Linked DNA regions of Homo sapiens. The protein of the gene in region 3 purifies or fractionates together with the protein of the main gene of each other region. This does not show direct contact. Each region holds a gene or a part of one and is shown on either strand. Other genes may lie near its edges.

Region 1 (3,500 bases), about 33 Mb from region 3:
GACTCTGGGGCTTCGTGGGGCCAGGAGAGAGCCGAAGTTGCGGCTGGCTGCAGGGGCCGTGGCCTTGTGCAGGAGGCAGTTCTGTGCTTTGCCCCAGGGCACCAACCGCATGGCAGCCCCACCCACTGTGGACCCAGAGGTTCTTTGAGGAAACCTGGTGTGGCACAAGTTTTAATTTAATAAACAGTTTGGGCACGGGGGCTCATGCCTGTAATCCCAGCACTTTGGGAGGTGAGGCGGGCAGATCACTTGAGGTCAGGAGTTTGAGACCAGCCTGGCCAACATGACAAAACCCCATCTCTACTAAAAATACAAAAAAATTTGCCTGGCATTGTGGTGTGTGCCTGTAATCCCAGCTACTTGGGAGGCTGAGGCAGGAGAATTGCTTGAACCTGGGAGGTGGAGGTTGCAGCGAGTCAAGATCGTGCCACCAAACTCCAGCCTGGGTGACAGAGTGAGACTCCATCTCAAAAACAAAATAAAAACAGTTTGGAGGGGTCAGTGCCCAAGCCCTCCTGCGCACGCACCCTCTGCCTGGCCCCTGCCTACAGCCTGTGACCCCTGCCTACAGCGTGACGCCCACCATCCGGGGACAGTGACTGAGGGGACGCAGCCGGCCAGGCCCGTGTCCACCATCCTGGCCCCACCATCCGGGGACAGCGACTGAGGGGACGCAGCCGGCCAGGCCCGTGTCCACCGTCCTGGCCCCACCATCTGGGGACAGCGACCGAGGAGACGCAGCCGGCCAGGCCTGTGTCCACTGTCCTGGCTGCCGAGTGGTGGGCTCCTCTACCTGCTTCCGCAGGGTGGGCCCTGGGGTGGGGCCTGTGCCGCCAGCCCTGCTGGAGTTGTAACAGCAGGGGTCCTCCCACAGGTCTGGGGTCCTCAGAGTCATCCCCTGGGCAGGTGGAAGGGCAGTGGGGCTGCGTGCTGGCTGAGAGCAAGGGCCCTGTGTGGCTCGTGGGAGGCGGCGTCCTGGGTGGTCAGCCAGCCTCTGCCCCGGCGAGGATGCTGCTTTGTCTTGCAGGTGGGCCTGGGTCCTCCAGGATGCCCTGGGCATCGCCTTCTGCCTCTACATGCTGAAGACCATCCGTCTGCCCACCTTCAAGGTGAGTGCAGGGAGGGCACGGCTGCGGGGCAGCATGGGTAGTGGGGGCCCTTCATCCTAGCCTGGCCCGTGTGGGGCTGTGGTCCTTGCAGGTCTGTGCTCCTGCTCACTGCCCTGGGGATGGCCGCCTAGGCCTGTTGTGAAGGGTGGGGCTTGAAGATTGGGTCCCAAAGCCCCCGCTGAGGCGGCCTGGGTGGGTGGCTGCGGGGCGGTTCCCGGCAGGGGCAACTCATGTCTAGATGAGGTGGTGGTGAGAGTGGTTGAATAGGGCTGGAGGAACTGGCCTCAGGTGGTACCGGGAGTGCGGGGATGTTGTCAAGCCCCAGGCGGCTGCACTCCCGTGAGGGCCCCACAGCACCCCAAGCAAGCGGCATTTGAATGCCCAGGATGGCCCTCTGTATCCCCAGAGCCGGCCCTGCGTGGCACAGGCCTCCGCCCTCCCGTCCCCGCCTTCCTGTTACGTGGAGACTCTAAAAGCCTGACTTTTGCCCGTAAATCCCTACCTGATGTTGCTTCCAAAGCTCCTCCTGCGTGGTGCGTCCCTGGCACTGGGCACGCTCTGCTCAGGTTCCTTTAAAGGCTGCCTCCCAGGAGGAGGCGCTGGGCCTCATGAGATGGGAGTGGGGGAGGCACGGGCCGGGGTGGGGGCCGCCCTCAGCCGTGGGCTTCGCAGGCCTGCACGCTGCTGCTGCTGGTGCTGTTCCTCTACGACATCTTCTTCGTGTTCATCACGCCCTTCCTGACCAAGGTAGGCGACTGCCTGTCCCTGCTCCACCCCATCACCCCGCTCCCCCGCCCCCTCGCAACCCCCGCCCCATCACCCCCCCCATCACCCCGCCCCCTCGTCCCGCCCCCTCGTCCCCCTCCACCCCACACCGTGCTCCCCTGCCCCCCACCCCATCACCCCGCTCACCTCCACCCCATCACCCTGCTCCCCTGCCCCATCACCCCCCATCACCCTGCCCCTTGCACCCCCCCATCGCATCACCCTGCCCCCTCGCCCCATCACCCCACTCCCCTGCCCCCCCACCCCATCACCACGCTCCCTCACTCAACCCCATTCTGTGCAGAGTGGGAGCAGCATCATGGTGGAGGTGGCCACTGGGCCCTCGGACTCAGCCACCCGTGAGAAGGTGTGTCTTCTGACTGCAGGGTCTCAGGTTGCCATGGGTCAAGGTGTTGCGCGGAGCGGATAGGGCTCGAGGCATCCCGCGGCCGGGTGAGGGTCCTGGAGGACATTGTCCTCTTCCCGTCTTTGCAGCTGCCCATGGTCCTGAAGGTGCCCAGGCTGAACTCCTCACCTCTGGCCCTGTGTGACCGGCCCTTCTCCCTCCTGGGTTTCGGAGACATTTTGGTGCCAGGTACTGAGGCGGGTGGAGCACACGGGTCCACGCTGTGGGGCAGGGCCCCGGGCGGCTGAGGTTTGCCTTTGGGAGTGAGTGGCCCGCACACCGTCGGCTGGAGATAAAGCCCTGAGGGTCAGAGTCGGGCAGGTTGGGGCCGTTGAGGCCTGGGTGCCTGGGCAGCGAGGGCATTGCCTGGGTGGGGTAGGGACCCCCTTTGTTCCTAGGGAGCGGGGAAGGCCCCCCGATTGCAGACAGCCTCACCCCATCCTGCTCGGGGTTGTGCAGGGGTCCTTGCTGGGGCCTGGATCCCGGGTCCCAGTGAGCTCATGTTGCTGCAGAAGGCAGAGACTGTACCCTCGCAGCCTCAGTGTCCCCAGGGTCCTGCCAGGTGTGTCTGCCTGGACTTTGTTCTCACTGTGGTCTCAGTTTACCCACTGAGAGTCATGGCAGCCCTGTCCCGAGCGAGCGTGTGGCCTGTCTGTGAAATGACAGCAGCCACCAGGCAGCGAGAGGCCCACGGCGCCCACAGGTGCTCAGGTGCCCGCCCGCTCCCAGGAAGCCCCTGCTCTGAGGCTCTGCGGGCCCGAGTAAGCCTCCGCCCTGTGCCTCCCCCAGGGCTGCTGGTGGCCTACTGCCACAGGTTTGACATCCAGGTACAGTCCTCCAGGGTATACTTCGTGGCCTGCACCATCGGTAAGTGCCTCGGTTGGGCCCGTGCTGGCCTCTCTGGCTCCAGCCCCACCCCGACTTAGCCTCTGTCCTGACCCTGACCCCTAACCCCAACCCCAACCCTAACCCTAATTCCAACTCTAACACCGTAACCATAACACCCTAACCCTAACCCCCTGGCCACTCCGGGAGCTGGGCTCGGGTGGCTGGGCCTGTGCCTGCATCCCCCTCTTTCTCATTCTCCCCGGGCCTGTGCCTGCAACCCCCTCTTTCTCATTCTTCCTGGGCCTGTGCCTCTGTCCCCATCTTCCTCATTCTTCCTGGGCCCGTGCCTGCATCCCCCTCTTTCTCATTCTCCCCGGGCCTGTGCCTGCAAC
Region 2 (3,500 bases), on a different chromosome or scaffold from region 3:
TCACTCTACCCACAGCATTGCAGGGAGGTGTAGCACTTGTTATTTTTCCCCTGGTAAGCCATTGTCAAGTGGACTTCCCTGGAAGTGATTATGTAAGCAGTACTCAGTACATATAGTTGACTTATTTCACCAGATTAAATTTTAAAAATTCAAATTTTGTCATTTTTGCGCATTGGGAGGTGATAAGTTGACATTAAGCATCTCTGGGTCACTTCCTTTCTGACTCTCTGCTTGTAGCTGTCACTGTGGCCTGATGACATAGCTCTTTTGAACATGTGCCTGTCAGTCAGAATATCATTCTGGGCCTGGGTCAAATTTTAAGACTAAATCTACGAGTTTCATTTTGTCTTTCATTATCTAAGAAGTAGAGTCAGAGAAGAAAAGGGAAGTAATGAGAGCTTTCTTATTCAGCCAACAAAGAGTCAGGGAGGGGAGAGAGATGAAAACAGTGAGTCCAGACTATAGAAACTGCAGGGGCAGGGCTCTTCCGCTGGCTGAGTAGTGGCCCGGGACCTGGAGGAGAAGGCTGCCTTGCCTGGTGCAGTTACAGGAATGAGCCCATCCAGATTTCAGCCATAGAGAACAACTTACAAGTACATATGCCTGTGATGGTTGCAGATTTTTCTTTCCTCTTTTAGTTTAGCAACAGAGCAGGATTTCTCAGAGTTTAATGTAGTGAATAAGATTCCCTTGGCTTGGTACAGTTCTGGCTGGAGTCCTTGGGTTTGGGACCAAACTGTACAATTTGAAGGAATTGGTTTCCCTCAGCAACTGCCGCAGGGGTCCAGAATGATTCATTCCTCATTCCCAGGTCCTTCAAAGGGCCGCAGTGACGCTGGGGCCGTGCAGCTGTCCCCTTTGTGTCTGATGCCCTGGATGCACTTTTGACCTTGGAGGCACAACCTCTCCACCATGTAGAGGCCTGTAAACTATTCCCAGCCCCTTGCTGAACTGGATTCATAAGGCACTGGGTGGCAGTCCACTGAACTTTCTGGGTCTTTCTTAGGCTATACCAGTGGTTCTTAATTGAGGGTGATTTTGCCTCTCGGGACTTTTGGCCATCTGTGGAGAAATTTTTGGCTGGGAAACTGAGGGGTTGAGGGTAGGAGTGCTACGGGCATTCAGTGAGTGGAGGCCAGGAATGCTAAACACTCTGCAATGCACGGGACAGTCCTCACAGCAAAGACTCATCCAGCCCGAAATGTTGGGAGTGCTGAGGTGGAGAAGCTCCGGCCTAAGTCATGGCAGCTGACTCCCCTTCTGGGGAAATGCCTTTTCAGTCTGTCCCAGTGATAAGGCAGAACCCAGTCCTAGTGGTTAATATCCTGGATCCTGACCCTACTCCTTCCTGTTTTAGCAAAGACCTGGTTTGCCCTGTAGAGAAAGGTTAGCAGATGTTCTTGGCTGCTGGATTAGGGAGGCTGAGTCTGGGTCCTTCAAACCAAAGCATGCATTAGGGTTGATTTCTCTCCCAATAGATGAAATGTGTTCTTGGAGGGCAAAATATCTAATTTTTTATGTATAAAGCACAAGTAAGATGTACAGTATAAAGTATTAAAATGTCATGGAGTGTGTTTAGGGAGAAACTTGTCTACAAAGGCTCCTGGTAGAGGGGCAGTAGTGGAAAAAAAAGGTGGAGAAGCACTAAGCTAAAGCAACCTCTTCCAAGTCTAGGCACGCATGAGAGTTTCTGCTTTTCTGTTTGAAATTGGCCCCTGAAGGGAACAAATAAGTAAGCCTTATTATTTATTTATTTATTTATTTATTTATTTATTTATTTATTTATTTTGAGACTGAGTCTTGGTCTTTTTGCCTAGGTTGGAGTGCAATGGCATGATCTCAGCTCACTGCAACCTCCGCCTCTTGGGTTCAAGTGGTTCTCCTGCCTCAGCCTCCCAAGTGGCTGGGATTACAGGCACCCACCGCTACGCTCAGCTAATTTTTTGTATTTTTTAGTAAAGACGGGGTTTTACCATGTTGGCCAGGCTGGTCTTGAACTCCTGACCTCAGGTGATCCACCCGCCTCGGCCTCCCAAAGTGCTGGGGTTACAGGCATGAGCCACTGCACCCGGCTGTAAGCCTCATTTTATATCCCCTCTCTCCCACCATTTTCACACCTTGTCCTTAGCTTGGCAGATGGGTATATATTTTGTGCCCATTGGAACAATTTCCTCTTTCCCTTCTTTTTCCCTAGAAGGTTGGAATGGACCCCTTATGGGAGATGGAGGCTTGTCTGGGAGAAGTAAAGCAAGTGTCGTAGGTAGGCAGACAGCAGCTGCCTGATTCTTCCCTGCAAGGGAAGGGAAGGAGAGAAGGTTCTGCTCGGCGCTTGGCCCTATATCAGAAAAACCTGGGCCCCACATTTCTGTCAGCCCTCTAGATCTCTGTCTTGACTAGCTTTCTTTGCTACCTTCATGCAGGGGAACAGTGGCCTCAAACCCAAGGACAATGAGTTCACGTCCAAACCCTGGCACTGGCCTATCAACTATCAGGTAGGATCCAAGGCTGGGGCTCCTCCCAGGAAATGGAGCCAAGAACAAGAGCAGGGAGACCGGTGGAGGCGGGGGTGGGTGTACTAGGGCGGCAGGGCGAGGGGCCTCCTGGGATGGGTTGGCCAGAGGTGGGAGTATCTGTTTTCTGCCCTAATTCTGACCCTGCTTCCCAGAGAGCTCGTGTAGAATTTGCCAGCCTGAGGTTCGTGTCCAGGCTCCCTGTCTGTGGAAGGTGACCATCTTCCTCCCCCTAATGGGTGTGGCCGAGGATGGGCTGGGCCTGGGTCAGCAGGGTGGTCTCTATTCCACAGGGCCTACGCTTCTCAGGGGTCAATGACACAGATTTCCGAGTCTATCTGCTTGGCAACCCGGTGAGTGCCTAAACATTCCCGGCTCAGGCCCTGGAGCACTTGCCCGTGGAGAGCGGCTGCGTTCTCATCTGCCCATTCCCATTTCTGCACAGGTGGTTTGGTGGCTGAATCTGTTGAGCATCGCCCTCTACCTCCTCTCAGGGAGCATCATTGCTGTAGCCATGCAGAGAGGGGCACGGCTGCCAGCGGAGGTTGCAGGTCAGGTCCTCTGGGCTCTCCCTCCCCTGACCTGGCGGCAGCAGGGCACCTGCACCCCTGGGGAGGGCCGGCTGCCTGCTGATGGGCCATCCTTTGCGTTTACCACCCCACACCTTCCCTTATCCTTTGCTTTTGAAAGGTAACAACCCCCAAGTACCCAGTGCTGTGTTAAACACTTTACTTCCTCCCAACAACACTAGAGCGTTGGCTATTATGACCCCCATTTTATGGATTAGGAAACCAAGGAACCATGAGATTAAGAAACTTGCCCCAGGACATACAGCTAGTAAGTGATAGAGCTGAGGCTCAAACCCGTGCAATCTGACTCCACAGCCCTCACTTTTAGCCCCATGCTGTGTACAGAGCTGCCCATCTTTTCTGCCACCTCCTTGTTCCATGGCCCTGTCCTCTCATGGGCTAGAGAGGAGCCTCCAGGGTT
Region 3 (4,254 bases):
AATTAACCATTTTAATCGGAAAACATCTCATGTATCTTATTACCAAACCAGTGCCTTGACGATGGGATTTTCAGTGTCATTTGCCAAATTCGCAGGCACCGCAGTGGGGAGCCACTGCTCCCACAGCAGAGGCAATACACGGCCTAGCCTTGGGGTTGAGAAGTTCTGGGGACGGTGTCGGGGGCCCTGGGCCACCATTTTTGCATGGAGCCAGCCCTGCGCTGCGAGGGCGTGGCATCGGAGAGACCGTGGCCTCGTGGGCAGCATCGGCGGCCCCTGGGGACACGCGCTGGCTCAGTCCCCACCTCCGCCAGGGAAGCGGTCTGATGATACCCATTTCGCAGATGGGCAAATCCACAAGCCAAGTCGTGCCGCCCAGAAGAGGCAGAACCGGGATTTGAACCTAGGTTTCTCATTCTGCACCTGAAGAAATAAATGTCTGGTCCATGCGTGTGTTGGGGGGCGACGGGGACTTTTCTTCAACCAAGCCCGGTGTGCCCCCTCTCATTTTCTAGCACGTTCTTCTCCCCCATCTTTGCACTTATCTCAGACTCCCCTCACACACCTATCCTGGGTGCCATCCTTTCCCTCAGCCCACCGCCCATGTAGTCAGCCTCCTAAGCGCCCCTTCCACCTGTCCCCTCATCTCCCCACTGCTCTGCCTCGGTCCAGCCCTGGCCTTGGCAGGGGTCCCTGCCTGGGCCTCCCCACGGGCTCCCGGCCTCACAGAGGAGCAGCCACCTGTGCAAGGTCACACAGCAGGAGAGACACTTCTGGGATTCAGGACCCACCTGTGGGTCCGAAGTGGATTTTTTGTTTGTTTGGTTTTGGAGACAGGGCCTGGCTCTGTCACTCAAGCTGGAGTGCAATGGCACGATCTTGGCTCACTGCAACCTCTGTCCCCAGGTTCAGCCATCCTCCCACCTCAGCCTCCCAAGTAGCTGGGACCACAGGCATGAGCCTGGCTAATTATTTTTGTATTTTTTATAGAAACGGGGTTTCACTATGTCACCCAGTCTGGTCTCAAACTACTGAGCTCAAGCGATCCGCCTACCTCAGTTTCCCAAAGTGCTGGGATTACAGGCCTGAGCTACCACGCCCCGCCCTGATTTGGATCTTGCTCCTATTCCCAGGAAGGCCCATGTCCTAGCAAGAGAGACACCAGGTGGTGCGCACGCCCCTCCACCTCCAACTCCTCCACCGCCAACAAAGCCTGGGACCCAGAGGCCATGGGTCCTACACAATCTGGTATTTCAGGTCTATAAATCATGGGGGTGGCAGGGAGCCCATCAAAGCTGTTCATCCAGCCTGGTCTGCCGGCTCAGCCTCTTGTCCACCCCACTGCCGTGCCCCAAAACACACACACACACACACACACCCTCCCTCCTTCCTGGGAGACTAGCCCAAGGAGGGGCCTGGGCGTATATAGGGAGCCACGGTGGGTGGGGCTGGCCAGAGAGGCTGCAGACAGAGAAGGTGAGGAGGGGGCCCTGGGAGTCTGGGTATGGCATGAGGGGTCTGAGGCTCAGGGAGGGGCAGTGCCAAGTTCAGGCCAGTGACTGCCCCACCGGAGCCCGGGTGTCCTCTTGTGCAAAATGCCTCCCCACCAGGGCTGTGGGTACATCAGTACCAGCCTGGGCCCCGCAGAGAGCTGGAGCAACCCCTCGAAGCCAGGGTGTGGCTCAGAGATGGGGGGTCCGGCTGGCCCTTTACGCTCCTGGCCTCATCCCTGCTCATGTGTCCCAGGATGATGGCGTCTGCGGCAGCAGCGGAGGCCGAGAAGGGATCTCCAGTTGTGGTGGGCCTGCTAGTTGTGGGCAATATCATTATTCTGGTGAGACTCGCCCCAGTGCTGGGAGCCGAGTGGTTGTGTGGTGGGGAGGGGACAGTCCTGAGCTCGGGGTGGGGGATGAGGGTCCAGAACTGTCTCTCGGGCAGACTCAGTGGTCAGCACAGCCTGGGTTGAAATCCCAGCTCTGCCTCTCCCCAGCTCTGTGACCTTAGCAAGCGACTGTCCCTCTCTGTGCCTTCTTTCCTCATCTATAGACTGTGTCCTCATTGTGTGGGCTGTTGTCATGTGGATTAATCCATGTGTGGCCCTCAGCTCAGAGAAAGTGCCCGACCAATGCTGGCTATCACCATCAGCATCACTATGGATATAAAGTGACAGCCTGGTGCACAGGAGGCCACAAGAAGGAAAAACAACAGTGTCTTTCAATTAACATTGGGTTTTGGTTTTGTGTTTTTTGTTTTGTTTTGTTTTGTTTTGTTTTGTTTTGTTTTGTTTTTGAGACGGAGTCTCACTCTGTTGCCCAGGCTGGAGTGCAGTGGCTGATCTCAGCTAACTGCAACCTCTAACTCCCGGGCTCAAGTGATTCTCCTGCCTCAGCCTCCAGAATAGCTGGGATTACAGGCGCACACCACCACGCCCGGCTAATTTTTTTTTTTTCAGACAGATTCTCCCTTTGTCACCCAGGCTGAAGTGCAGTGGCGAGATCTCGGCTCACTGCATCCTCCACCTCCTGGGCTCCAGCAATTCTCCTGCCTCAGCTTCCCGAGCAGCTGGGATTACAGGCACATGCTACCACACCCGGCTACTTTTTGTATTTTTAGAAGAGATGGGGTTTCACCATGTTGGCCAGGCTGGTCTTGAACTCCTGACCTGAGGTGATCTGCCCACCTCAGCCTCCCAAAGTGTTGGGATTACAGGTGTAAGCCACCGCGACTGGCCGTGTGTTTGTTTTAGAGACAGGGTCTCACTCTGTTGACCAGGCTGCAGTGCAGTGGTGTGATGCTTGCTCACTGCAGCCTCCAACTCCTGGGCTCAACTGATCCTCCTGCCTCAGCCTCCCAAGTAGCTGGGACTACAGGTGCACATCACCACATCTAGCTAATTTTTTTATTTTTTGTAGAGACGGGGTCTCACTATTGCCCAGGCTAGTCTCAAACTCCTGGGCTCAAGCAATCCTCCCGCCTCGGCCTCCCACAATGCTGGGACTGCAGGTGTGAGCCACCTTGCCTGGCCCATTTGTAATGTTTATGGCCATGGCCATGTTCCCCTCCTCGGGGAATAACAGCACTGTCAAGGGAGGGCAGATGGACCAAGCATCTCCTCTGTGCCAGTCCACTGCTCCAGCCTTTCCACGTGGCATCCCCTTTTATCCCCGAAGAAACTGGCAGCTGGGGCGTGGGGGTCGGTTGTCTGGCTGGGCTGTCTCTTCTCTCCTGGCCTCTGCTCACCCTCATCGCTGCTCATGGAAGGCGAGGTCTTTGCCCACTTTACTGAGAGGGCAGTGGAGGCTCCAAATGGGGAGGGAACTTGCTCGTGGAGATGCCTGGTGCCAGGGCTGCTGGCCCCGAGCAGACCTTCCTAACCCACCGCTCTGTCCAGCTGTCAGGCCTGTCCCTGTTTGCTGAGACCATATGGGTGACAGCCGACCAGTACCGTGTATACCCACTGATGGGAGTCTCAGGCAAGGATGACGTCTTCGCTGGTGCCTGGATTGCCATCTTCTGCGGCTTCTCCTTCTTCATGGTAGCCAGTTTTGGTGTGGGTGCCGCACTCTGCCGCCGCCGGTCCATGGTCCTCACGGTGAGACTCCAGGGGTTGGGGGATGGGGACACTGAAAACGGAGTTCAGCATCACTGAGTCATAGTAGCAGGTGCAGCCCCAGCCACTAGTGTGAGTTCCCCATGGTGTCACACTCAGGGATCCCAGGCATCATCTCATTCAGTCTTCCCACAGCCCAATAACCCAGGCTTGAGTAGCAGAGCTGGGATTTTTTCTTTTTTTTTTTTTTGGTAAAGATGGGGGTCTCACTATGTTGCCCAGGCTGGTCTCAAACTCCTGGCTCAAATGATTCTCCTGCCTCAGCCTCCCAAAGTGCTGGGATTACAGGCTTGAGCCCCTCTACCTGCACCCAGTGCAGGGCTAGAATTTGAACCCCTGCTAGCTGCTTTCCAGAGTCCATGCTCATGAACTCTGCCAATAATAGCACAGCTACCATTTAATAATGGTTTACTACAAGCCACGAGCTGTTCTAAATGGTTTACTGGATTAGTTCATTTATTCCTCATAGTCCACCAAGAGATACTGTCATCATCATGACCCTGTTTGATGAAGATTGAAACTGAGGCTCAGAGAAGTGAAGTCACTTATCCAGGGTCACACATTGAGACAATGGCAGAGCCAGTTTCAACCTGAGCAGATCGGCTCTTGAGGCTGTGCTCTTAATCTCTGCCCACAAGAATAAC
Region 4 (3,500 bases), on a different chromosome or scaffold from region 3:
GGTGAAACCGTCTCTACTAAAAAATACAAAGAAAAAAAATTAGCCGGGCATGATGGCGGGTGCCTGTAGTCCCAGCTACTTGGGAGGCTGAGGCAGGAGAATGGCGTGAACCCGGGAGGCGGAGCTTGCAGTGAACCGAGTTCGCGCCACTGCACTCCAGCGTGGGTGACAGAGCAAGACTGTCCTAAAAAAAAAAAAAAAATGCAAAAGCCAATGGTAGACCTGCTTACATTTGCAATCCCAGAACCTAAATGCAAAGATTATAATTTAATTTTCTTTATTACTTCCTTACAGAGCCCTAGAGTAGAAAGATAAACTAGGAAAAACACAGCAGCTCTAAGATACTGCACAGTTACTGGGTTGTAGTCACAAAACAAAATTGTTCTCTTCTCCCAAAAATGTGAGTAGAGACTAAATGGAGCCTGTCATTTATCTAGAATGATGTCAGACTCTCCAAAATCACTTACCAATAAGAGAGCAACTTAATAATCTCAATAAAGGCCTCATATTTTTTATTTCAGCTTAATGACTTTGTTGGTGACCTTTCCTGTTTCTTTATTTTTTTCTCTTACCTGTAAAATTGAGAAAACAACAGAAGCCTGCTTTGCAGAGAAATTTTGAGAAGTAACTATAATAGAACATTGAGATCCATGAGTGAAAAGTATGATAAAATGACAATGAATGAGATCTTTCACATCCCATTCAAACTCTTCTTGACTCCAGCCAGGGCAGGAGGGCTGTGTCATTCACTTTCTTATCCTATACCACGATATCCACCCACATTCCTTCTCACAGGCATTTGAGTGTCATTTGTTTAGATTTCAGAAGTGTGTGTTGATTGTTTCTAGACAACTCGAGAGATGATCGCTCGTTCTGCTGCTACCCTCATCACACATCCCTTCCATGGTATGTTTGCAGTTGACAACTGACCTTTCTTTTATAACCTGATCTCTCCTGACCACTTAGATAGGTTGACGTGGGAGTTGACTAAAATGCCTTGCCTGCATGTTTTTGTTTGCTTGCTTGTTTTGGCTTTTATCCAATTTATCCAGATAGCAAAATGTCTTTAGGTGGAAAATCTTTTTTTTTCCCAGGGCTATCAAAATCTATCTTAACATAGTTTTTTTTTGTTTGTTTGTTTTTTGTTTTTGAGACGGAGTTTCACTCTTGTTGCCCAGGCTGGAGTGCAATGGCACAATCTTGGCTCACTGCAACCTCAGCCTTCCGGGTTCAAGCAGTACTCCTGTCTCAGCCTCCTAAGGAGCTGGGATTACAGGTGCATGCCACCACGCCTGGATAATTTTTGTATTTTTAGTAGAGATGGGGCTTCATCATATTGGTCAGGCTAGTCTTGAACTCCTGACCTCAGGTGATCCGCCCACCTCGGCCTCTCAAAGTGCTGGGATTACAGGTGTGAGCCACCGCACCTGGCCTTAACATAGTTGTAAACATCTTTTCTCTATATTCCACAGTGATCACTCTGAGATCTATGGTACAGTTCATTGGCAGAGAATCCAAGTACTGGTAAGTATTTTTGTTTTCACATACTCAAGGAGATCTTTTGAAGCCAAAGTACTAGAATAATACTACTTTGTATTTTTATGATACCCTTACAATTTGTAGAACAAATTCGTATCTGATGTCATTTGATCTGCACAAAAAACAATAAAATGGGAGAAAATATACCCAGGCAGGTTTAGTAGCCTACGTAGGATTTCAGAGTAAGTTGCAGAGCCCCTGACTCCATATGACTATACCCCTAGGTAGTTAATATTTTCACTTCTATCTCCAAATTTAGCTATCTTTGCAGAGTGAGAGAGTGCTAGAAAAGTGTGAGGGAAGGAGGTCGTGGATTTGACCTTGTCCAATGTGATAATTGAAATTATTTTGTTTATAGCTCCAAAAGAATCTTAATATATTTTACCTTTTCTTCTTGTGTACGTAGTGGACTTTGTGATTCCATAATAACCATCTATCGGGAAGAGGGCATTCTAGGATTTTTCGCGTGAGTAAATGTTGATTAGTGTGTAATTTTTGCATGAGTGGGAAACGTTTTCTGAAAGTAAGAATAGTGAGTCTTTGTTTAATCCTTGGGGAAAACGTACTCCCTGGGCTTACCTCACGTTACATTCTATTTAGGCCCCTTATTTTTTTTTCTTTTTTCTCTGCAGAAAGGCATATTTAGGCCCCATATGACTAGAATTATCTTGTAAAGATCCCAAACCTTTACTTCTAGATACTTAAAACATTTGAGGCCGGGCGTGGTGGCTCACGCCTGTAATCCCAGCACTTTGAGAGGCCAAGGCGGTTGGATCACCTGAGGTCAGGAGTTCAAGACCAGCCTGGCCAACATGGTAAAACCCCACCTCTAGGTGTGGTGGTGTGTGCCTGTAATCCCAGCTACTCGGGAGGCTGAGGCAGGAGAATTGCATGAACCCGGGAGGTGGAAGTTGCAGTGAGCTGAGATTGCACCACTGTACTCCAGCCCGGGTGACAGAGTGAGACTCCGTCTCAAAAAAATAATAATAATTAATAAATAAATAAGGAATTTCTTTTTTTAACAAAGGACTTAATTCCAAGTTTCTACCCTTGTAGTAAACTCCCAATTCTATATAGATAATAAAATGAGAAAAATTAAATGTTGAAAAATGGGGAAATCATCTTAACTTGTATTTTCCTTACCGTAAAAGAGTAAGTTTTTGCAAGGCTTGAATTTACTTTGGAAGAACTTAGACTACTACCCTCATTCTTCTATGAGGAAAAATTTTGCATCATTACCGAAATGGTGTTTTTTGTTTTTTTTTTTTTAATTTTCAGAGTATCTCCCCATACGGATTTTGAATATCATAAATACCCTGTGAGATAGGCAGGACAGCTATAATTAGTATCACTTTAGAGATTAAAAAACATTGATGCTCTGAGAGTTTCATCTGCTGCCTGTCACATCGCTGCTGAGTGCTGGAGCTGGCATTTGAAGCTGGTCTTCAATCCGTGGGGAAATGCTCTTCCCACTATTCCATGCTGCCTCACCTAGGTCACCCAGACCCTAGAAATGTGGTTTTTGATGCCTCTCATCTGTATCTGTACTTGGGACCATTCTTGCTTTGTAATTTTTCTCGTCTTTTGCTCTGCCAAATATGAATATCAGATAGCTTAGCAAAATCATTTTTTTAAGCTAGTCAAAGCAAAACAATATTTAAGTCTCTTCTGCAAAGCACCTCGCAAATCTTTTGCCTCCCTGCTTACAGTTATGAATAGTAAGGTGAGCCACTGAGGGTATAGCCGACCTGCATTTTAAACATAGGAACAAAAGTCACTGGAGATCAGCTTCAAGTACAGCTGTGTTAACGAGAATGAACTAGGTATGCGGGCTGGATTCTGGTGTTTGATTCCTTTTTTACTTCCCTAGAATGTTTTGTGACCTCTAATTATTTGACAAACATTTGTACTGAAGAGCCTGTCATGTTACTGATCACATTTTTTGGTTCTTATTTTTATTG
Region 5 (3,286 bases), on a different chromosome or scaffold from region 3:
AGCTATTCACTTCAGAGCCTTGGGATTGACTGGCAGATGGGATTGGGGTAGAGGAAGGCTGAACAGATGCACAGCCCTAGGGTCCCTGGAGCTCCAGGAAGCAGCTAGAGGCAGCCACAGTGGTCAGTGTGTGTTGGTAGCAAATGGCTGAGGATTGTCTTGTTGGAGAATCCTGAATTCATGAGAGAGCATTTCTAAAGAACCATGTTCTTGACACATTAAATCAAACAACAACAGAATTGCCCATTCAGATGATGCCTATAGGTTTTCCAATAATTGGCATCATATATAACCATTCATGCTGGTAGAGAAAAAGACTAGAAAGAAATAAGCCAAAATATTCACAGTGATCTCTCTGGGGACAGAATTATGATTGATTTTTTTGTATGTTTTATTTTTAAATATATTTTCTCATCTATTTTACAGTGATTTCTACTTAATGTTTTTGCTGAGAAATAGATATTTCTATCCAAAACATATAAAAGTGTTATTTCAAAATTCAGATGATTTTCGTATTTGTCTTTTTAATCCATCAGATATTTATAAACAGGGACAAGAGTGATGATGATAGAGGGTACTTAAAAAATAATTATCAAACTAACATTTAAAGGTGATTGATTTTTTTTCTTTGAAGTAATTTATTTTGTAACCAAAGTCAAGGTGGATTAAATTGATGAAAAGTTATGAACAATATTGATTAAAAATATTCCACATGGAAGCCCCGTCATATATTACACACATCACTTAGTCTCCAGATTGTCACTATTTATTGAAAGCCAGTTTCTAGGCCTTCCAGGGTACATTTATTATAAGTACTTTTTAATGCAGAGCAGATTCCTTCCGGCATACAGGTGGTGGTCTGCTGGTGATACATGAATGTTTAAAACTGCATGTTTTTTTGTCTTACAGAGTTGTCTTGGTTCAACTGGTGCCTTCCCGGGTCGTGTTTGCTCAGTCTCCTCCTCATTCTGTGCTTCAGGGAATCCTATGACAGACTCTATCTTGATGTGGTTGTCTCCGTTTAATAGCACAGACTTGAAGGAGTTTAAAAGGAGGCTGGAAATCAATACTGCACACTGCACATTTGCTCAGAATTGCACATCTAACAGGAAAAGAGGGAGAAGAAAGAAACTTCATTCAGAGGTTTTGTTAGGTTACAGATTATCACATTAATTTAATTACTACTAGGTAATAATAATGGGAGACTTGAGTGATAATAGGGGATTTTAAAACTCTACAGATGGCATACCTGTGCCTGCTTCTGGGGTTGGAAGTGTGACTTCTTACACATAAAGCACTACCTAAGTAATTCTCTCTCTGTTTTGTGCCAGTGCTAAACTACTGATTACTTGTAATTATGAAAAGAAATAAAGGGTGTCTATCATATGAAGATAACGCCTTCCCTAAGTCACATATCAGAATAGGAAGATATGCCACTAACTTCTAAAGAAGTTCAAACCCTGTATCCAATTTTAATGATAAAATAGCCAAGAGGTATATCGATGATGGAAATTAGCCACATGTACACTACATTTTTTCTAATAAAGCCATTTCTTATATGACTCCTTATTTTAATCAGGTCAGAAGCCCTTGGCCATCTTTACTATGGTGATCAGGTGCTTTCCAGTGACTTCTGAGCATAGGCACTGTGTCTCCATCTCAACTTATCCTTGTTTCTGTGAAATACAATTTCATCTACTAGGCCCTTAAATAATTATGTGAGGGTGTCTAAATGTTTAATATGATTACATTAAATATTGTATGAAAAAATGTAATTCCATTAGGATCTAGCACTTTGTTACAAGTGAAATGACAAGTCACATGGACATACTGTGTCTTCTGCCTGTATATGGTGGCATGAGATGTAATGTCCAGAGCCAACAATTATTTACCAGGGTTAGATTTTATTCAGTGACCCTTGTTTAAAAATAATAATTTATCACATTGAAACTTTCAGCTCTGTCGAATGATTTCTGAATTACATCCTGTGTTTCAGCTTAGGTTGTAAAATACTCCGTTCTCTGTGGAGTCAGCATATTTGAGAGGGCAGCGTTTTGCCAGTACCTATCTTCTTTCTACAGAAGATAGCTTTTTAAGAAATAAGAGTTCCACATTGAGTGGCTGTCAGACACAGATTTCACTGTGACGTAAAATACACTGCAGTGAGAATATGGTATCACCACTATTCATATTTACATCATTCCCCTCACACAGAAAAACCAACCCTTTTCCCAAAAAGTCAAGAATACTGCTATACCTTTATTATTCTCAGCTTCCTCCAGCCCTTCTTGTTTTTCCTCACTTGAAATTGAACCTTCATTGTCAGCTAAGTATATATACTTTTGTGTTTTCCTGGACAGAGTGCAAGTGGCTCTTATCAGCCAAGGTGGTGAAGGTTCAGGAAAGCTGGGCAGCACTGGGCCCTGCTCCTCTCTGCACCTGTGTGCGCCATGACACACCCACATGCAGATTCCCAAGTCTGTCTCCCCTCCCCCTTAGCAAGTACAAGGCTGTGCATTAACTCACCTCGGTCCTAGAGGAGTATCCTAGTACTGCTTGGCAACTTCTAAGACCCTAACTTGTGAAACTAGGGAAGTAAGAAACCGTTCAAATTTAACATCTGTCTTCAGTCATCTTTAAATCGTCTCTCTTTATAAACACTCTGCTCACTTAGCAGAAGGACTGAAGGAACTAAGGAACTTGCTAAAGAGAAGAAGAAAACAAAAGCTAGACTTAGTTCCAGTTAATTCTGTTATTCTTCTGAAATAAAAATGAAATAAAAGGAAGGCAGAATTCTCTTTTTTTTTTTTTTTAGACAGGATCTTGCTCTGTGATGGTGCAATCTCAACTCACTGCAACCTCCATGTCCCAGATGCAGGTGATCCTCCCGCCTCAGCCTCCCGAGTAGCTGGGACTACAGGCACGCACAACCATGCCTAGCTAATTTTTCTGTTTTTAGTAGAGACAGTGTTTCTCCATGTTGCCCAGGCTGGTCTCAAACTCCTAAGTGATCCACCCGCCTCAGCCTCCCAAAGTGCTGGGATTATAGGCGTGAGCCACCACACCAGGCCAAGAAGGCGGATTCCTTGAAGATGATTCAAAGCCAGCCATTAAGGATATCCGTAGACCATGACCCGGATGCTAAATAAGCACCACCCCTTCCTGTTCAGAGGGAAGAGAGAAAGGAGAGGGAAGAATTATAAGGTATTTGGTTTTAGTCCGAACTATTATGTTTGAGGATGTTGTGGTATAACATTCTGCAATAGTAAGATTTCTTGTGTAGAAC
Region 6 (3,500 bases), on a different chromosome or scaffold from region 3:
ACTCCTACCCTGTGGAGTGTGCTTTCATTTTCAATAGATCTCTGCTTTTGTTACTTCATTCTTTCCTTGCTTTGTGCATTTTGTCCAGTTCTTTGTTCAAACACCAAGAACCTGGACACCCTCCATCAGTAACATATTGAGAATTGACAACAGAAGTACAAACATGAGTAATGAGTCTATGAGTGTCCCTTGTACCAGATTCAGATTAGGTTTTAACACAATATAATGAATCCTGTCTTCTCAAGATATTTACATTTGTCTTATCTTCTTCAGATGTGCTCATCTTTTGCTACGGGACCCAGACAATACGATGGAATATTCTATGAATTTCGTTCTTATTACCTTAAGCCCTCAAAGATGAATGAGTTCCTGGAAAATTTTGAGAAAAACGCTCATCTTCGGACAGCTCACTCTGAATTGGTTGGATACTGGAGTGTAGAATTTGGAGGCAGAATGAATACAGTGTTTCATATTTGGAAGTATGGTAAAGAGTCATCCAATTTTGGCTTTCAGTATAGATTTTCATTTTTCAGTATAGATTTTCATTCTGTTAAATGTAACATAAAACTTAGTTCTTGGATGTATATTATTTTAGATACATACAGGTTAACTAAGACTTTTGAAAAGCAATACCAAAAAAATAAATTCAGTTCTTATTCTTCCCAGTGGTACACCTCTAACCCCTTGCTTAAACATTACATTATATTACATTATAAATTGGAAGACATGGCATCTCATATATCAAGCGATAAAATTGTGAACTAGACTTTAAACCTCAGAAAAATATTAAAATGGTTTGCTGTAAAGATAGTTCATGAAAAATTTAAAGCAGCAATTGTAAAAGTCCAAGTGGATTAAGATCACAAAAGGAAAGGAGAAGTATCTTTTCTCTTTTTGAAGCTAGGGGGCTGGATATCAGTATTTTAGCAGAAATAATTCAACCATTTAAGGGACTTCACAATATGGAGGTTTATAGGGGATGATGGTTAACTTTCAATCCTCACTGAACTCTGAGATTTAATAATTCTGTTATGTTTAGAGACCACATTTGTTTCATATCTGTACCCCCAGAGTTTTGAGGAATTCACTGTCATACTACTCTAGGGAGGTAAAAGAAAAGGAATGAAAGAGAGTTCTTCCCGTGTTGAAACTAACCTACGCCTGGTTTAGTAGAGGAAGGAGAATAAGTTACAAGAATGCCCAGAATGCTTGTTACTCCAGTGTCTACATCAGGACTTGATGATACCTAAAGAATTTTTAATAATTTCATTTAGTGTTTGGTTTAGGGTTTTTCCCTGTTAATAGAAAAAGCCCCATTAAAATACATTTTATGCTTTAGATGTGGTACAAGTTGTATCACAGCCCATTAAAAAAACTAAGTTCTGATATACCTCACTTAAGTTGTAAGATAGGTATTCTTCCTTATCCCAATGTAAACCATATGAACCTCTCTTGCCATTAGTCTTATGAGGTCCTAATGGTAATTATAGTACTAGGCCCATATGTTGGCAAATGTATATAACTGTTTGGGTAACTTAAATAGAAGAGAAATAAGTGCTGGGGAGAAAGAATGGATGACAATAAGAGAATCAGCATTATTTCTTTGAAATCTGTTTGTTCAAAGGAGAAGAGGCTTAAAAAGTACGGTTTAACTTCACTCATGTTAAATTTGATTCAAGATGTTTTAACTTCACTCATGTTAAATTTGATTCAGGGTGTATCTGAACTTGACTACCCACCACCACCAAAGAAAAACAGTCTTTCTCTAAACTAGCACTATAAGTTAAATGCCTCAATCAAGTAAGAATAGTTCACATATACTGAGTATTAACTAGTGCCAACCGCTATATTCTAAACTCTTTTCATGTGTTAATTTAATCCTCATACAACCCTGGAGGTAGATGTCTTATTATCTCAATTTCACAGAAAGTGAGGCACAGAAAGATTCAATAACTTACCTAATTCACAAAACTGCCTACTATATGGTTGAGCCTATAAAGCCTATTATGTGGCATTACAGTTAGTTTGCATTTCTACTGCCCTTTTTGTCCTTGAGCAACTTCAGGGCAGATGGTCACATCTGTTTACGTTGGTGTCTCCAAAGGCCTAACACAAGGTTCTTATATGGCATCAATGACCATTGCTGATGTGAATGAAACCCAGAAAAGTACAGGTGATTTAAAATTGAATTTTTTATTTTTCTTAATTCTTTTCTTCCCACAGATAATTTTGCTCATCGAACTGAAGTTCGGAAAGCCTTGGCCAAAGATAAGGAATGGCAAGAACAATTCCTCATTCCAAATTTGGCTCTCATTGATAAACAAGAGAGTGAGATTACTTATCTGGTACCATGGTGCAAATTAGAAAAACCTCCAAAAGAAGGTAAGTCCTTCCTTCTTAGTCACTGAGTTTTGATGAATAAAATACTAAAGAACTTAAGTGATCAAAACTGAAGTTCCTTTGGAAAAAAATAAAATTAATTCTTTGTTTTATATAGAAACATACAGTGATTGTTGTGGTAAAAATAAATGGGAGCTCTTACCCCATCCTTTAAAAAAATGAGCATAAAATAATGAGATATTTTTCAAATTGAGACCTTGCAGATTTGTAAAGCTTAACTGTGTTATAGAGAAAGCTGACATGGTCAGTAGAGGTTGAGAATTTGTGCATTGGGAGCAGAGAACGTGTTGATAGGTAAGGGATAGCATAAGAAGTTTTGCCATAATTTTAAAATAATATGATCTTTAAAATGTAAAAGTATTTCCATAAATTATAACTAATCTTAAATCATTAAATACAGCTTTGCTTATAAAACTGAGTATTTGGGGGAAACAGATTAAGTGAAACTGCCAAGCTATATTACTTTAATCTAACTTTTGTGTCTTCTTTCTTGTTTCTCAGTTTGAAAGTAATTGCTTAAGATTTGTCTTCTTGCTGATTTCACTTCTTGCTGACTTAAAGAAACTATTACCTCAATCCAGTTTTAAATAAAGGTCAGATTAGAAAAGCATAAACTTATTTAAATGTTATTTTACTTCCCCCATTATTCCCAACTTTGTAGTGTATTTAGGTTACAAAAAATTTACAAAGTCTTCCTTGGATCTTTACCTACTTAGGTGTCCCCTCAGCTCTCAGCACTATCTAAATAAAATAGTTCACTTCTCTGACAGTGTCAAATCTTGGTTCTCCTCCTCTGTGTACATCACTGCTTGGAAATTTTTACATGCTTTTCCTACTTGTCCCAGAGTTTCTTTCTCTCCACCAGCCCTATACTTCTGTCCAAAGTGTACAATACTTTTCAAGTATTTACCTGGATATTTAGGAAAAATAAAACCATCTCTTTAGGTTTGTCTTTTTTCCTCCAAAATTCAAAGATATCACTTCAGGTCCACTCTTTGCTTTGCTGTTCCTGTTAAAAATGGAAACTTATAGGGAGAAATTATATGAAGAAAAACATAGTGGAAATTGGAAAGAATGAAAATATAGATTGGAAAATTCTT
Region 7 (3,500 bases), on a different chromosome or scaffold from region 3:
GTCCTCTTATTTCAGGTTTTTTTATTCATTATTCTTCCCTGGGCTCATTGTATGTGGAACTTTATGTGTGTGTTTGGTCATTGTCCTTTGGGGAATCAGACTGCTGCTACAGAGAAAGAAAAAATTAGTGTCAACTAGCAAAAATGGGAAAAATCAAATGGTGATTGCATTTTTTCATCCATACTGCAATGCTGGTGGAGGAGGAGAAAGAGTTTTATGGTGTGCTTTAAGAGCCCTGCAGAAAAAGTAGGTATCCATCTTTCTTAGCTAATTTGCTATATTGTTCCATTTCTTAAAAATTATTATCCAGAAATTCATCTTTTTTTTTTTTTTTTTTTTTTTGAGACAGAGTCTTACTCTGTCACCCAGGCTGGAGTGCAGTGGCACGATGTCGGCTCACTGCAAGCTCCGCCTCCCAGGTTCATGCCATTCTCCTGCCTCGGCCTCCCGAGTAGCTGGGACTACAGGTGCCCGCCACCACGTCCGGCTAATTTTTTGTATTTTTAGTAGAGACAGGGTTTCACCATGTTAGCCAGGATGGTCTCGATCTGCTGACCTTGTGATCCGCCCACCTCGGCCTTCCAAAGTGTTGGTATTACAGGTGTGAGCCACCGTGCCCGGCCTCATCTTTCTAAAGTACCTAAAGTAAAAAATGAATTCCTTTTTAAACTGTTCTTCAATAAGAAAATATTTCTTTCATGTGCCCACATACCTTATATGATCTTATTTGACTTTAGTTACTATGATAAAGAAATAGACAAACCCAGGCATGGTGGCTCACACCAGTAATCCCAGTACTTTGTGAAGCCGTGGCAGGTGAATCACTTGAGCCCAAGAGTTTGAGACCAGCCTGGGCACCATGGCGAAACCCTGTCTCTACAAAAAATTATCTGGGCATGGTGATGCGCACCAGCTTCTCCAGAGGCTGAGGTGGAAAGATTGACTGAGCCTGGGAAGTCAAAGCTACAGTGAGCCATGATTGTGCACTGACTGCACTCCAGCCTGGGTGACAGAGTGAGAACCCGTCTCAAGGGAAAACAAAAAAGAAAGAAAGAAATGGACAGTGGATGGGGAAAACATCTGCCCTTTTATGGCATAAATTAATGGGAATAACTGGTCCCCTTGGGAGAGCATATACAGAAGAGATTAAGTAATTGACAGAAATATACCAAGTATGTCAGAGCACTTTAAGCCTGAATACTTTCAGGCAGTTGTGGCACACAGGAATAATCTTTATGAAAGTATCTATTTGACTCAAATTTTTATATCATTACCAGCTGGATAGTCTCAACTTACCATGTTAGAAGGAATATGGTGTTATACATCTTTTAATATTTGAGGCTTCGTCATCACCACCCCCCATACCCCCAAAATATTTATGATTCTCTTTTAGAAAGGAAAAAGCATAGTAGGTTCCATTATTTTATCATATGAGGAAAACTGTTACTCTTCATGGTTACCCTACTTCCTGGTACACACCCTTCATTCAGTGCCAAGGCCTTCACACAGAATTACCTCAGCTATACTTTTCTGTAATCCTGGCCCATCCTAGCTTCCAGGCCCTACCCCTGTATTTGCTCTGCCATCTTCTGTAACTGCCTAAATACAAAGAATTCTCATAATTCCCAACTCCGTGATGCTTTTCCTACTCTCGTTGATAATACTTTTTTCTTCTCTAACCAGATTATCTACCTCTTGATGGCGGTGGTAAAGTTTCATGATATCTGTACACATAGTCCCCAGCAGCCTCTATTACTCCTAACCCATCTACAAGGAGAAAAAAACCAAATCATTAATATGACTTGGAAGATACTTTTTCATCTTGCTCTGGCCACATTGCGTTTCTCATCCCTCCCCATTCCTTCACAGGTACTTTACTCTGACATGCAGAACAAGGAGCAGCTCCCTGAACACATCATGCTCTCTCTCGAGTCCTTCCCTTTCTATATAGTGTTCTTTTCTTCTGAAATAACCTTTTTCTCCCCAGTTAATTTCTACAAGCCTTTCCTAACTCAACACATACTACAGTGCACTTTTCATTCGACCTAGCAGTATTTATTGGGGACCTGCTATGTGTCAGGCACTGTTCTGGGGGTTGAGATTAAGAGAACAAGATCGATCAAGTCCTTCTCTCCTGGACGTTTGATTTTAGTTGAGAGAGACAAGATAATAAGCAAAGAAGAAAAATATCAAATAGTGAGACGTGCTATATAAAAAGTTAAAATAGGGTAATATAGGAGTGACTTGATACTTTAGATAGAGTGATCAGGGAAATATCTGATAACAATCAAAATCTGAATGACAAAAACAGCTGCATTCACTGCGTGATGATTGTATGTTAGGTATTGTTTGAAGTGCTTTACATGTGTTAGCTCACTTGATCCTCAGAACAGCCTTTTGCAGTTGTTACCATTATCCTCATTTGACAAAGAAGAAAACTGGGGCACTAGAGCCCATGTTCTGAACCACATGCTAAACTGCCTGCCTTATGAAAAGACAGTGAAAATGAGAAAAGAGAATTCAGAGTAGAGAGAACAACCACTGCAAGTCCCCTAAGGCTGGTTGGAGCTTGGCGTGTTAAAAAAAAAGAATGCCAGTTTGGCTGCACCCTGGAGGGCAAAGGAGAGCATGGGAAGGGAGGTGACAGAGGGAGGCAGGTTCCAGATCACACAGGACTTGAGTGAGCAGGGAAATTAGTTTAGATTTTATTCTAAGTGCTATAGTAAACCAGTTTTGGGGTTACTGTTCTGTGACATGGTTTAGGGGCTGCCATGTTTGGTCTCCATCATACTGTTGCAATTAGATGGCAGCTGGGGCTGGAGGCATCTGAAGCCTTTTTCACTCACATTCTGGTTCTTGGGCTGGGATAACTGGACCTGCTGGGGGCTGTCGGGCATCTCTCTCACTGAGGAGCTTCTTCATGTGACTTGGTTGTGCTTGCATACAACATAGCAATCTCGGGCTGGTTGGACTCCGTACATGACAGCTGTCTTCTCCTAGCATGAGCATTCCAGGAGACAGGAAGTAGGAGCTGCCAGTCCCTTAGAGTCTATGTTGGGAAACTGGCACAATGTCACTTTTGCCATATTCTGTTGGTCAAAATAGTCACAGAGCCAGGTGTTATTCCAGGGGAGGGGACTTAGATGCCACCTCTCAGTGAGAAAAGTATCAAAGAATTTGTGGCCCGTCCGGGCACAGTGGCTCACACCTGTAATCCCAGCACTTCAGGAGGCCAAGTCTGGCAGATCACTTGAGGCCAGGAGTTTGAGACCAGCCTGGTTAACATGGCAAAACCCCTTCTCTACTTAAAAAATACAAAAATTAGCTGGGCATGGTGGCACACATCTGTAATCCCAGCTTCTCAGGAGGCTGAGGCACGAAAATCACTTGAACCCGAGAGGTGGAGGCTACAATAAGCCAAGATCACGCCACTGTACTCCCGCCTGGGCGACAGACAGAGCGAGACCCTGTCTTAAAAAAAGAAAGAAAAAACAAATGGA

What was found.
Region 1: the proteins of UPK1A (region 3) and SPPL2B purify together in Homo sapiens (affinity purification with mass spectrometry; one large-scale study listed by BioGRID and IntAct). This does not show direct contact.
Region 2: the proteins of UPK1A (region 3) and POMT2 purify together in Homo sapiens (affinity purification with mass spectrometry; one large-scale study listed by BioGRID and IntAct). This does not show direct contact.
Region 4: the proteins of UPK1A (region 3) and MTCH2 purify together in Homo sapiens (affinity purification with mass spectrometry; one large-scale study listed by BioGRID and IntAct). This does not show direct contact.
Region 5: the proteins of UPK1A (region 3) and SLC49A4 purify together in Homo sapiens (affinity purification with mass spectrometry; one large-scale study listed by BioGRID and IntAct). This does not show direct contact.
Region 6: the proteins of UPK1A (region 3) and NIPSNAP3A purify together in Homo sapiens (affinity purification with mass spectrometry; one large-scale study listed by BioGRID and IntAct). This does not show direct contact.
Region 7: the proteins of UPK1A (region 3) and ALG11 purify together in Homo sapiens (affinity purification with mass spectrometry; one large-scale study listed by BioGRID and IntAct). This does not show direct contact.

Annotation. Positions count from the first base shown.
Region 1 is NC_000019.10:2,342,184-2,345,683, forward strand, and holds part of SPPL2B (signal peptide peptidase-like 2B isoform 2 precursor), read left to right. Parts: intron 1-1,027; coding exon 1,028-1,109; intron 1,110-1,781; coding exon 1,782-1,856; intron 1,857-2,178; coding exon 2,179-2,241; intron 2,242-2,369; coding exon 2,370-2,469; intron 2,470-3,069; coding exon 3,070-3,147; intron 3,148-3,500. UniProt on the Homo sapiens protein: Intramembrane-cleaving aspartic protease (I-CLiP) that cleaves type II membrane signal peptides in the hydrophobic plane of the membrane. Functions in ITM2B and TNF processing.
Region 2 is NC_000014.9:77,279,384-77,282,883, reverse strand, and holds part of POMT2 (protein O-mannosyl-transferase 2), read left to right. Parts: intron 1-2,420; coding exon 2,421-2,492; intron 2,493-2,803; coding exon 2,804-2,863; intron 2,864-2,955; coding exon 2,956-3,061; coding exon of another isoform or gene 3,062-3,200; intron 3,201-3,297; coding exon of another isoform or gene 3,298-3,347; intron 3,348-3,500. UniProt on the Homo sapiens protein: Transfers mannosyl residues to the hydroxyl group of serine or threonine residues. Coexpression of both POMT1 and POMT2 is necessary for enzyme activity, expression of either POMT1 or POMT2 alone is insufficient.
Region 3 is NC_000019.10:35,665,063-35,669,316, forward strand, and holds the start of UPK1A (uroplakin-1a), read left to right. Parts: upstream 1-1,454; 5' UTR 1,455-1,476; intron 1,477-1,746; 5' UTR 1,747-1,750; coding exon 1,751-1,834; intron 1,835-2,885; exon of another isoform or gene 2,886-3,391; coding exon 3,392-3,592; exon of another isoform or gene 3,593-3,623; intron 3,624-4,254. UniProt on the Homo sapiens protein: Component of the asymmetric unit membrane (AUM); a highly specialized biomembrane elaborated by terminally differentiated urothelial cells.
Region 4 is NC_000011.10:47,629,060-47,632,559, reverse strand, and holds part of MTCH2 (mitochondrial carrier homolog 2), read left to right. Parts: intron 1-848; coding exon 849-906; intron 907-1,472; coding exon 1,473-1,524; intron 1,525-1,945; coding exon 1,946-2,005; intron 2,006-3,500. UniProt on the Homo sapiens protein: Protein insertase that mediates insertion of transmembrane proteins into the mitochondrial outer membrane. Catalyzes insertion of proteins with alpha-helical transmembrane regions, such as signal-anchored, tail-anchored and multi-pass membrane proteins.
Region 5 is NC_000003.12:122,878,354-122,881,639, forward strand, and holds the end of SLC49A4 (solute carrier family 49 member 4), read left to right. Parts: intron 1-909; coding exon 910-1,025; 3' UTR 1,026-2,786; downstream 2,787-3,286.
Region 6 is NC_000009.12:104,750,683-104,754,182, forward strand, and holds part of NIPSNAP3A (protein NipSnap homolog 3A), read left to right. Parts: intron 1-273; coding exon 274-484; intron 485-2,223; coding exon 2,224-2,382; intron 2,383-3,500.
Region 7 is NC_000013.11:52,018,898-52,022,397, forward strand, and holds part of ALG11 (GDP-Man:Man(3)GlcNAc(2)-PP-Dol alpha-1,2-mannosyltransferase), read left to right. Parts: intron 1-15; coding exon 16-246; intron 247-3,500. UniProt on the Homo sapiens protein: GDP-Man:Man(3)GlcNAc(2)-PP-Dol alpha-1,2-mannosyltransferase that operates in the biosynthetic pathway of dolichol-linked oligosaccharides, the glycan precursors employed in protein asparagine (N)-glycosylation.